Linked DNA regions of Homo sapiens: region 2 is linked to region 1. The links come from fine-mapping of genetic effects on gene expression. A gene starts in region 1. The other region holds a variant in brackets. All regions are shown on one strand. Distances are from middle to middle. Region 1 holds the start of LONRF3 (LON peptidase N-terminal domain and ring finger 3). Region 2 has its middle 21 kb from the start of LONRF3.

Evidence for each region. PIP is the estimated chance that this variant, and not a neighbour inherited with it, causes the effect.
Region 2: its variant is fine-mapped to the expression of LONRF3 in nasal epithelium (TOPMed, PIP 0.92).

The regions. Positions count from the first base shown.
Region 1 is chrX:118,972,117-118,977,489 of GRCh38, reverse strand. It overlaps LONRF3 (LON peptidase N-terminal domain and ring finger 3), which reads right to left and starts at 2,872. Exons shown (of 11, transcript NM_001031855.3): 1 at 1,893-2,872. The coding sequence starts at 2,709.
Region 2 is chrX:118,950,677-118,956,049 of GRCh38, reverse strand. No RefSeq gene overlaps it. Among named protein-coding and RNA genes, the nearest start is that of LONRF3, 21 kb to the left of the region's middle. The variant G/A (reference allele first, on the strand shown) is at 2,479.

The sequences.
Region 1 (5,373 bases):
ATGGCCATCTTCCAGAACAGAGAGCCTCCTTTCCTCTTAGAAGGGTAAAGCTGGCCTTGACATTTTCACCCTGACTTCTCTGAGGGGATTAACAAAGATGCAAGGAAGAACTTCCAGGGGAATGTGGTGGCAACAGAGGAGAAGGGTGAGGGCAGGAAGGGGCTTTCCTGGCCCCTGGGGGATGGCTAAAAGGTATGGAATCTGCCTTAGAGATCTAGAGTTAAGTGACCTCCACCTGCCTCATTCATATTGCCCTGCTCTTCCCCAAGATCTGGGATCTAGCTTCCTCTGTGGCAACAGGCTTTGATGTTTTTTTTTTCCCCAGGGGTGTGCTCAGGGCTTGCTTGCGTGCCCATTACTTGCTCTTAAGACATTAGCAAATTGTTTAGTCTTTTCTGTCTTTTTTCTTCTGCAGCACACTCCAGCCTGGTGGCAGCTCACAGTCTGCCTTGCTTGTGCACAGACAGGAGCTAGAAGGGTCCCCTTCTCCGGCTGCCAGCCTTGCCCCTTCAGTCCTCATTCCTCCTCCTCCTCCCCCCATTACCTGTTGCAAGCTTGAGTGGAGATTAAACACGTGGAGACTCCGGCCCACACCCCTCCTCCACTCCACAGAGTCAGGTCCAGGACACCCTCGGATCCCAGGGCCCTGCCTGCCCAGCCCTGCTGCCTCCTCCCCGGCATGCTTCGCCAGACACCGCGCCCCACGGCCGAGCTCCTGGCAAACTGCCAGAGCTGGGCAACACCGGCTGGCGGCTCAGCAGCCACTTCCTGGGTCCAGGCGTGGTGGGTCAGAGAGCGGCTCCCTGGGGAAATTCGGGTGCCCTAGTCTAGCTGGAGATGGGGGACTGCCCACGTTACCCTTGAAGCTGCAAAGCCCACCCAACCCTCCCAGGCGGCACTGAAAAGCGGGACAGAGGCGTGACCCATTCGTAGCCAGCCCACGGTCCCCAGGGATCCCCAAGCAGTTGCCGCGCCGGCCTCCCGCCGGGCTGGCCAGGTTAAAGGGGTTGGAGGCGAGGGCACAGGCTACGGGTTGGCGGGGCGGGCAAGGGGGGGCATCTATTTCAGCCGAGGATCGTGTGATAGGAAGCGGTGACAATGAGTCACAGGGCAGCGGGGCGCAAGCGCTCCCCCTCCCCCCGCACATGCTCGTGGGATGGTTTCCGAAGCGAGCGTGGTGGCCCACTTCAGTTACCTCAGCGGTTACACAATCCCGCCCGCTCGCGCGGGGGAGGGGCGCCCGACCCGGGCCGCTCGCGGCCCTTATGCAACCAGTGCTCTCCTGACCTAATTCCATGCCGGACCCACCCCACAGGGAGCCGCGGCCCCGGAAGGGGCAACACCCGGCGGCGCGAGCGGCGGACGCAGGCGCCGACCGGACATCTCCTGCTGGCTACAGCCCAGAGGACCGGGCGCAAGTGCGAGGAGCGCGCGAAGTTCCTCTCCTCGCTGGGAAGGTGCGAGCAGGTGTAAGAGGAGACCAGGAGTGCAGCGGGAGAAGGAGAGTCAGAGGAACAGAGACAGTGACACCGAAAAAGAAAGAAACAGTGACAAAGATACGAAGAGACGGAGAAAAAGAACCAGAAGCAAGGAGACACAGACAGGAACGGGGACTGAGAGACAGGAACACAAAAGCTAACAGAAGTAGCAGGAAAAGACAAAAAGCAACCGAGATCAACACAAACACAGTGAAACACAGATAAGCAGTGAAAACAGAACAAACTCAGAGACCCAGCCCCAGAATCACCCCTCCCCCACCCCGCCACAGTCCATGGGTCCCCCGCCCCCTCTTCTGCCCTGGTCCAAATCCCTTCTCGCTGCGGGGTTTGTTCTCCCGCTCCCTCATGTAGCCACCGAGCCCCAGCCCCGGCCCGGCAGCGCGTTGGACTCACCCAACTTAACTGCCTCGTTGTACTTGAGCAGTGCCGCCTCCACCTGGCGCTCGCGGTACAGTCGGTTGCCCTCGTGCCGGAGTTGCGACGCTCGCGCTGGGCCTGGAAACAACTTGCCGAGGAGGCCGCTGAGCACCACGTTGACTCGCAGCGGCGGCGGCGGCTGCTGCCCAGCCCGCCGGGCTCCACGCGCCCGCCCAGTGGCCACCATCAAGGCGGAGAGCTTGACCCCGCACAGCGCACAGCGCCGGTCGGCGGCCCGCCCACGTTCCAGGCACAGTTTACAAAAGGTGTGGCCACACGACAAGGACACGGGGTCTGATAGAAACCCATGACATTTCCGGCACTTAAAGCCGTCCCACACCTCGGTGGCCGCCGCAGCCGCGGCGGCCCCCGTCTCTTCCGCCGCCACGGTGCCGCTTGCAGTGCTACCCTCGTCCGGGGGCGCCGGCGCCAGCGCCTCGCCTTGCGGGACTTTCTCCGCCAGGCAGCGCACCAGCTGCTCCAGCTGCTCAGCCACCAGCTGCTGCCGCTCGGAGAGCTGTCTATACACCTCGAGGGCTTCACGGATTCGCCCCCGGGACGCCAAGGCGTCTGCCTGCGTGAGCAGGACTTTGCTCTCCGGCGTTGAGGTCCCCGGAGACTGCTCTTGCTCTGGCTCCCGCGTCGGTAGAGGTGCGGGGCCCTCTGCAGCCACCTTTGGGTGGGGGCCCATGTCTACTTGGGCCGCTGATGCCCCTCGCTCCGCCGACTCCAAGTTGTCGCTGCTGACCTCAGCGGGCAAGCTCAGCATCTGTTCGATCCGTACTGACTCCATGGGAAGAGGGACACGGGAGGAGACGAGGCGTCTAGGGACCGGGGACACGAAGCAAGGAGTGGCAGCTGGAGGAAATCGGGGCAGCCACCGCCGCCATGCCACCGAGCTCCTGACCCTGCCGCGCCTCCGGGAGCTCCATGCCGGCCGCCCCGCGCCGCCTAATAACTGTCTTGTCTCAGCAAAGTGTTATATAAAACGGTACCACGTGACGTGCCGCCACGCTGTTCATTGGCCGGCGGCGGGGAAATTGTTACAAAACCAGACAGTTTTGTAACAGTGTTGCTCTTGCTTCTTTGGGCTTCGCTTTTCTTGGCTTCTTTTTGAGGTTGTTTGTGTTTACACTTCGCCTTATTCCTCCTCACCACCTGGTTCTTTTTCGGAAGTGGGGTTGTGGGGTGGGGAGAAACTCAGTGTCTTCTCTTGGGCTTCTCAGTCTCCAAACCCCACTCCATCCCACCTCCAAACGGGCCAGCAAACAGGTCCCCTCTGCCAGCCGCTGACCAGCGGCCCCCCACTCCTCCCAGGAGAGGCTGGTACCTCGAGGTGCACAGTCCGCAGGGTCTTCCGGGACGCCTAAGACTCTCCCTCTTGGGGGAGATGGCTGCTGTCAGGGAAAGGAAGCAGGTTGGGAGGGGTATCCGTGAAGCCCCCCCACACACACACAACCCAGTCCCAGCCCGAGAGCCCTGGGAGCCCCGCCTGGGTTCCTTGCCTTCTCCCAGGAGCCTCCCAAAGGTGGTGAATTCGGTTTCTGAGGGTGCTTGGTGTTCTGTGCCAAGAGTGACTCAGAGCAGCGGGTCCCACCGGCGCAGAAGTTGGGCAGCGCTCGCTGGACAGTGAGGAACTCGCGGAGAAGATGCGCTTGCCGGCTCAGCCCTGGGAGGGAGATGCCCCGCTAACTCCCCTCTTTACCTCTCTACCCCCAACGCCAGAACTAGCGCTGGGGCAGGCGGTAGGCGCCCAGCTGGAGACACACCAGGCCGGCCCCTGGAGCCACTGGCCGGATGGGCGCGGCAGGGATGTACCCGGCCTGCTGGGGTCGGTGGGTACTCTGGGGGCGTGGGAGAGTGGCAGGGGGAAGACGCGAGCTGAGAGCGCTATTCAGGAGAAAGTCCGCGAATCCCGGCACAGCCCAGTGGCAGACCGAATAGCCTCCAGGTTTGTCGCTCCTGAGCGCTGCGCGGGAAGGGTACAACTGGGCACGAGCCTCAGCGCCTGGTTTACAATGGCTAGGGGGCCTCGACGGTGTCCTACACACTTCCTGAAGGCGAGCGGGGTGGCCAACTGCACACTCTTTGTCTGCCTTGAACCCCCACATTTAGGACGGGAACCAAGCTCACAAATGAGCAGACAGAAAACGGTATAGTCGCACTGCTCCAAGCAGGGAGGCAGGGACTAGGCTTGCCGCTGGCTCAGTTGGCCTTCAGAGCCTGCGGGCTCTTGGGCAGTGCCAGGTTGCCGCCCCAGGGGCCTGAAGACCTATTGTTGCCCCCTGCTGCAGCCACCTCTTAGCCAGATGACCTTGGGGAAGTCAAACTTTAGAATCCATCATTTTTGCTTCTGAACAAATGTTAGAGCTGATCTTACTTGGGATTAAGTCATGTTTCAGAGTTGGGTTATGGCAGGCCCCCTCGGGTCTCTGCTTCTCTTTAGGTAGTTAAACCAGTCTTAGATCAACACCAAGGTCCCAGAGAACAGGTACTATGCAGCCAGCTCTAGAGCCTCTTTCTAATAAGACAGGACAGAGGGAGAGGGTCACAGGGCAGAAAGGAAGCATCACATAGGGGAAAAAAGACACACACACGAAAAAAAAAAAAAATGAAGAAGAAGGAGAAGGAGAAGAAGAAATAGAGAAACTCCAGATGTAGTCAGGAAAGCACGAGGGACACATTGGAAAACTTGGCTTGAAGCCTTGGATTTGTCACATATTTGCTATGAAACCTTAGGTAGGTTCTCCAAACCTTAGTTTCTCTTAATCTCCAAGGTTCCCTCCAGCTCTAACCTTGAGTGGCTTTGATCCTAAGACCAAATTTCATGATACTAACTCAGTTACTTAAGTACAAATGACTAGTCCAAATGCTGTGGATGGTGGCTTGAACCGGGGTTGAGGGGATGGGAAATCAATGGAAGATTGTCCATTTAGTCGGGGTCAGACCTGAGCTAGATTTTTTTTTTTTTTTTGAGATGGAGTTTGGCTATTGTTGCCCAGGCTGGAGTGCAATGGAACGATCTCAGCTCACCACAACCTCCGCCTCCCAGGTTCAAGTGATTCTCCTGCCTCAGCCTCCCAAGTAGCTGGGATTACAGGCACGTGCCACCACAGCTGGCTAATTTTTTTGTATTTTTAGTAGAGACGGGGTTTCTCCATGTTGGTCAGGCTGGTCTCGAACTCCTGACCTCAGGTGATCCGCCCGCCTCAGCCTCCCAAAGTGCTGGAATTACAGGTGTGAGCCACCGCGCCTGGCCCCTGAGCTAGATTTTTAAGATGTAGAAGTCGGAGGACTGGCTAAGAGGTGGAGGAGGTGGCCATACCAAGCAGTAGGGGAGAAACTGGAGTTCCTGGTGAGTTGCTATCTAACTGAAGGGAGCTCTTTTCACCTCTCAGTTTCCCCTACTATCAAATGAGGTCCCCAGCACTAATTATCTGCCTGCCCCTTCAGGCAT
Region 2 (5,373 bases), 21 kb after region 1:
GCATTATCAAAGAAAACCAAAGTGATGATCCAGATAAGCCTAGAAGCCCATGTAATATTAAAGAGCCTAGGCCCAGATTTTGGTTTAGAGAGCAATATGGGAAGAAGCTGAGCTTCGTTTAAGGTATGACCAGGCTTAATTCAATGGCTTGGGACTGTTGCACATAAACTGAATAGAACACCAAAGGCTGGGCTGGGGAGGAGACTAGAAGTCACAGGGGCTGTGAGAGAAAGACCTCTTGGAAGAGCAAAGATTGAGTGGTGGCAGTAGAAAAATGAATAAGGGAAAAGCTAGTTCCAGAGGGATACAAATATTGTAATGGCACTTATATGGATTTTTAAAACATTTAATACAACTTATATATGCTTCTTCCATGGCAGACTGGAATAAAAACATTTAATCAATTTATATATATACACATGCATGGGAATGATCATACAAATATATATATATATATACACACACACACACACGTATGAGAATGATAAACAGCACATTTAGGACAGTGGTTACTTCTTGGAAGGTATATTAGTTCATATTGCATAACAAATTAACAAATTACCCCAAAATTCAGGAGCTCAAAACATAATCCAGACATGGCTTCGCTGAGTCTTTTGTTTCAGGGTTTCTTCCAAGGCTGCAATCAAGGTGTCAGCCAGGGGTTCAGTCTTACCTGAAGACTTAACCAGGAGGATCTGCTTCCAAGTTCACTCACATGGTTGTTGTCAGGATTTGGCTCTTTGTGGGCTGTTGGACGAAGGACTCAGTTCTTCACAAGGTGTTGGCTAGAGGCTTCCCTTGATTCCTTGCCATGTGGGCCACCCCATAGAGCATCTCACAACGTGGCAGCAGGCTTCATCAGAATGAACGAGTGAGAGTGCTGGCAGGATGGAAGTCAAAGTCTTTTGCAACCTAATTACAGAACTGACATCCCACAACTTTTGTCATATTTTATTCATTAGAAGCAAGTCGCTAAGTCCAGCCACAGTCGGGGGAGGGGGATGACACAAGGGCATGAATACCAGAAGACAGGGTTCATTGAGGGTCATCTTTCAAAGCTGCTAGTAAAAGCAGAGGATGGCGGGGCACAGCAGCTCACACCTGTAATCCCAGCACTTTGGGAGGCCGAGACAGGTGGGTCACTTGAGATCAGGAGTTTGAGACCAGCCTGTACAACATGGTGAAACCCCGTCTCTACTAAAAATACAAAAATTAGCTGAGTGTGGTGGCAAGCAGTAATCCCAGCTACTTGGGAGGCTGAGGCAGGAGAATTGCTTGAACCTGGGAGATGGAGGTTGCAGTGAGCCGAGATCGCGCCACTGCACTCCAGCCTGGGTGACAGAGCAAGACTCCGTCTCAAAAAAAAAAAAACTTTTTTTTTAAATAAAAGCAGAGGATGTTAGTAAAATAATTCTAGTTGTGTGGGTACTTCAACTATATCTGTAACATTTTCTTTCTTTTTTTTTATTATTATACTTTAAGTTTTAGGGTACATGTGCACAATGTGCAGGTTAGTTACATATGTATACATGTGACATGCTGGTGCGCTGCACCCACTAACTCATCATCTAGCATTAGGTATATCTCCCAATGCATATTCTCACTCATAGGTGGCAATTGAACAATGAGAACATATCTGTAACATTTTCTTGCTTAAGTTATGGGTATTTATGCACATGGGTATTTATAATGGTTTTTATATACCATTTGCAGGTCTGAAATATTTCATAATAAAGAAAAAAGAGAAAAAATTAAAGTTCAGTGGACCTAATCTCTGAATCTGTTGAAGATAGTTGTTCAGAGAAGGGGAAGGGTCCAGGGATTTGAGGGTTGGTAGCCTTGTTTCTACTTTTAGTTAAAGCTTCCTAGGTGCTCTCTAGTTAGCATCAATGCCTTCTCCCATATTATGCAATAGCATATCTCATAGTCTGTCTTACATTAATATTATTTATATATATATATATATGTGTGTGTACTGTCGTGTATGTGTGTGTGTGTGTGTGTGTGTGTGTGTGTGTGTGTGTGTGTGTCTATCTATACCCCTCCTAGGGATTGTCAGGTTCTGGAAAGTTCAGACCTTATAGAATTTTATTTGTCTTTCTATCCTATATCACCTATCTATCCCCCTCCTAGGGATTGTCAGGTTCTGGAAGGTTCAGACCTTATAGAATTTTATTTGCCTTTCTATCCTATATCACCTAGCACTGTGCTTTATACATAGTAGGTGCTCAGTAAGTGCTTGCTAAAGTTAAGTGGACTTAATGCTTCCCCACCCCATTTTGGCACTTGTGTTAACATTTTAAAATGTATTATATCCTAGTATATGTTAGGACCATAACTACAGGGCGAAATAAAAGACAGATATCCCTTTGTCATCAGTATTAAAGAGACAGAGCAAGAAAAAATAATTAGTTGCCCATACAATGTGGTGAAGTACTCCAAAATCCTCTCCCAAATAATACGTTCCCCACCACTGGA[G/A]CCTACTTTTCCTTTATTGTAGAATTCTTTCTTTAGGTTAAGGCATTCTTTCCAGGAGCTCTCTGCTAAACTACAAATAATCTTCAAATGAAACTACATCAACCTCATTGCATTAGACCTTAGTACCATATTTCTTAATTTTTTTGGGGGGGAGGATACTGATCTCTTCGAGAATTGAAAGAATCCTTTGAATACCCCCACTCCGAATGCATAACATTTTACTTTCAAGTGATGATTCATGAACTTTCTAGAGGAACTTCTTTTGCTTAAAAAGATTGAGTTGTGGCCTTGAGGGAACAAATACCCACACTTGGATATTTTACGTCTGAGGGACCATAGAGGAGGAATAGTGATTGGGAAGTGGGAGCATTGCCTAGAGAGAATTAGGTGGGGCATTTCTTTTTTTTTTTTTTTTTTTGAGATGGAGTCTTGCTCTGTCGCTGAGGGTGGAGTGCAGTGGCGCGATTTCAGCTCACTGCAACTTCTGCCTCCCGGGTTCACGGCATTCACCTGCCTCGGCCTCCTGAGTAGCTGGAACTACAGGCAACTGCCACCATGCCCGGCTAATTTTTTTATATATTTTTAGTAGAGACGGGGTTTCACCGTGTTAGCCAGGATGGTCTCGATCTCCTCAACTCGTGATCCACCCGCCTCGGCCTCCCAAAGTGTTGGGATTACAGGCATGAGCCACCGCGTCTGGCCTAAAAGTGGGGCATTTCAACACGAAAAGGACCCAGGCACCCCTAAAGTAGCAATCATGACTGAAAGTGCATGCTTGGATTTTTTTTTAAGTCTTGATATTAGAAGGACAACAGAAATTATAGTAGTTGTAGTTGCTGAAAATTTCATTTTCTGAAACTTTAGGAAGTTCTGGGTGAGGTCAGAAACCCTAGGCATCATTATTCATGTCCAGAAACGGTGTTAATCATGTACATACTCAGAATGCAGAGTTTCCTCACAATATTAATACGCTTTATGATTACACTACTCATGATTCACGTAGCAGAATAAAATCCATCACTTTAGGATAAACTGTTAATAGCTGTTGAGGGGAAATAAAGATGACAGCTGTGTACTTGCTCTGTACAACTTAGAGTGGCATCTTCCAAAATAGTAATTCCAAACTTTAAGCAGAAAATTCAGTTTAACTAAGTAGACCTGGAACAAATGCCAAATATAGTACATGGCCCCAATTACCATTGCCATATTCTGTTTCTCTTTCAGAAGAAAACACATCTGGGGCTCCACTACAGATTTCTTCTTAAGAATTGATATAGTAACTGGCCGGGCAGGGTGGCTCATGCCTGCAATCCCAGCACTTTGGGAGGCCAAGGCGGGCAGATCACCTGAGGTCAGGAGTTCAAGACCAGCATGGCCAACATGGTGAAACCCCATCTCTACTAAAAATACAAAAAAAAAAATTAGCCAGGTGTGGTGGCGGGCACCTGTAATCCCAGCTACTCGGGAGGCTGAGGCAGGAGAATTGCTTGAACCCGGGAGGCGGAGGTTGCAGTGAGCTGAGATCACTCCGTTGCACTCCAGCCTGGGCGACAAAAGTGAAACTCAGTCTCATAAAAAGAAAATAAAGAATTGATATAGTAACCTTACCTTCTTCTCTTGTGAAAGAGAACTCTTTCAACAAACACCCTACCTCCTGCTTGCCCCTTGGGCCCAGAGAACACAGCATGTCATTTTGGAAGGGTTGCTGGCCCACACTATTTCTCTTTGCAATTACTTTAATTCCCCCAAATAATCCCTTGACTTCTTTGAACTTCTCAGAAGAGAAACTGAAAAGTGTGCAGGAACATATATGTAACCACATTGTTTCATACTACACTTAGTACTTCAAGTCCATTTTCTTCACCAAGTGAAGCCTTTGCAGAATTCATAAAGGAGGGCCTGAAATAAGCCCTGAAAGGGTTTTAAAGTTCTTAAAAGTTCACAGTCTGGTGCAGTGGCTCATGCCTGTAATTCCAGTACTTTGGGAGGCTGAAGTGGGAGGATGGCTTAAAGCCAAGAGTTGGAGACCAGCCTGGGCAACATAGCGAGACCCCATCTCTACAAAAAAATTAAAAAATAGCCAGGCATGGTGGTACAAGTCTGTGGTCCAAGCTACTCAGGAGGCTGAGGCAGGAGAATCCCTTGAGCCCAGGAGGTCAAGGCTGTAGTGAACCATGATTGCACTACTGCACTCCAGCCTTGGCAACAGAGTGAGACCCAAGTCTCAAGAAAAAAAAGTCCACAGAAATAAGATTTACCAAATGTTCAAAAATAATTATGATGAATCACAATCGTGAAGAAACAGTTTTCTGTCTTTATTACAAAGTTATTTTTGAAGTGTTTCTTCATGAATCATACAAAATAGCTGATTGCAATATATATTGTCATCTTCATAACTACTTCTGAGAGAGAAAAACTCTAGTTAAAAAAAGGAAACCAATATTTTAATTGAAAAATATTTTCTGGGCCAGGTGCGGTGGCTCACGCCTGTAATCCCAGCACTTTGGGAGGCCGAGGCGAGCAGATCACATCTGCATCTCCATCACATCAGGAGATGGAGACCATCCTGGCTAACATGGTGAAACCCTGTCTCTACTAAAAATACAAAAAATTAGCCTGGCGTGGTGGCAGGCACCTGTAGTCCCAGCTACTCGGGAGGCTGAGGCAGGAGAATGGCGTGAACCCGGGAGGCAGAGCTTGCAGTGAACCGAGATCGCACCACTGCACTCCAGCCTGGGTGACAGAGCGAGACTCCGTCTCAAAAAAAAAAGGAAAAATATTTTCTGCACAGTAAAATAAATGACACAGTAATGAAAGAAACAATATACTTCCCAAATGTAGATTATGTCATTATTAAATAATTCTCTTCTTAAATTTTGATTCAATTTTAATCCA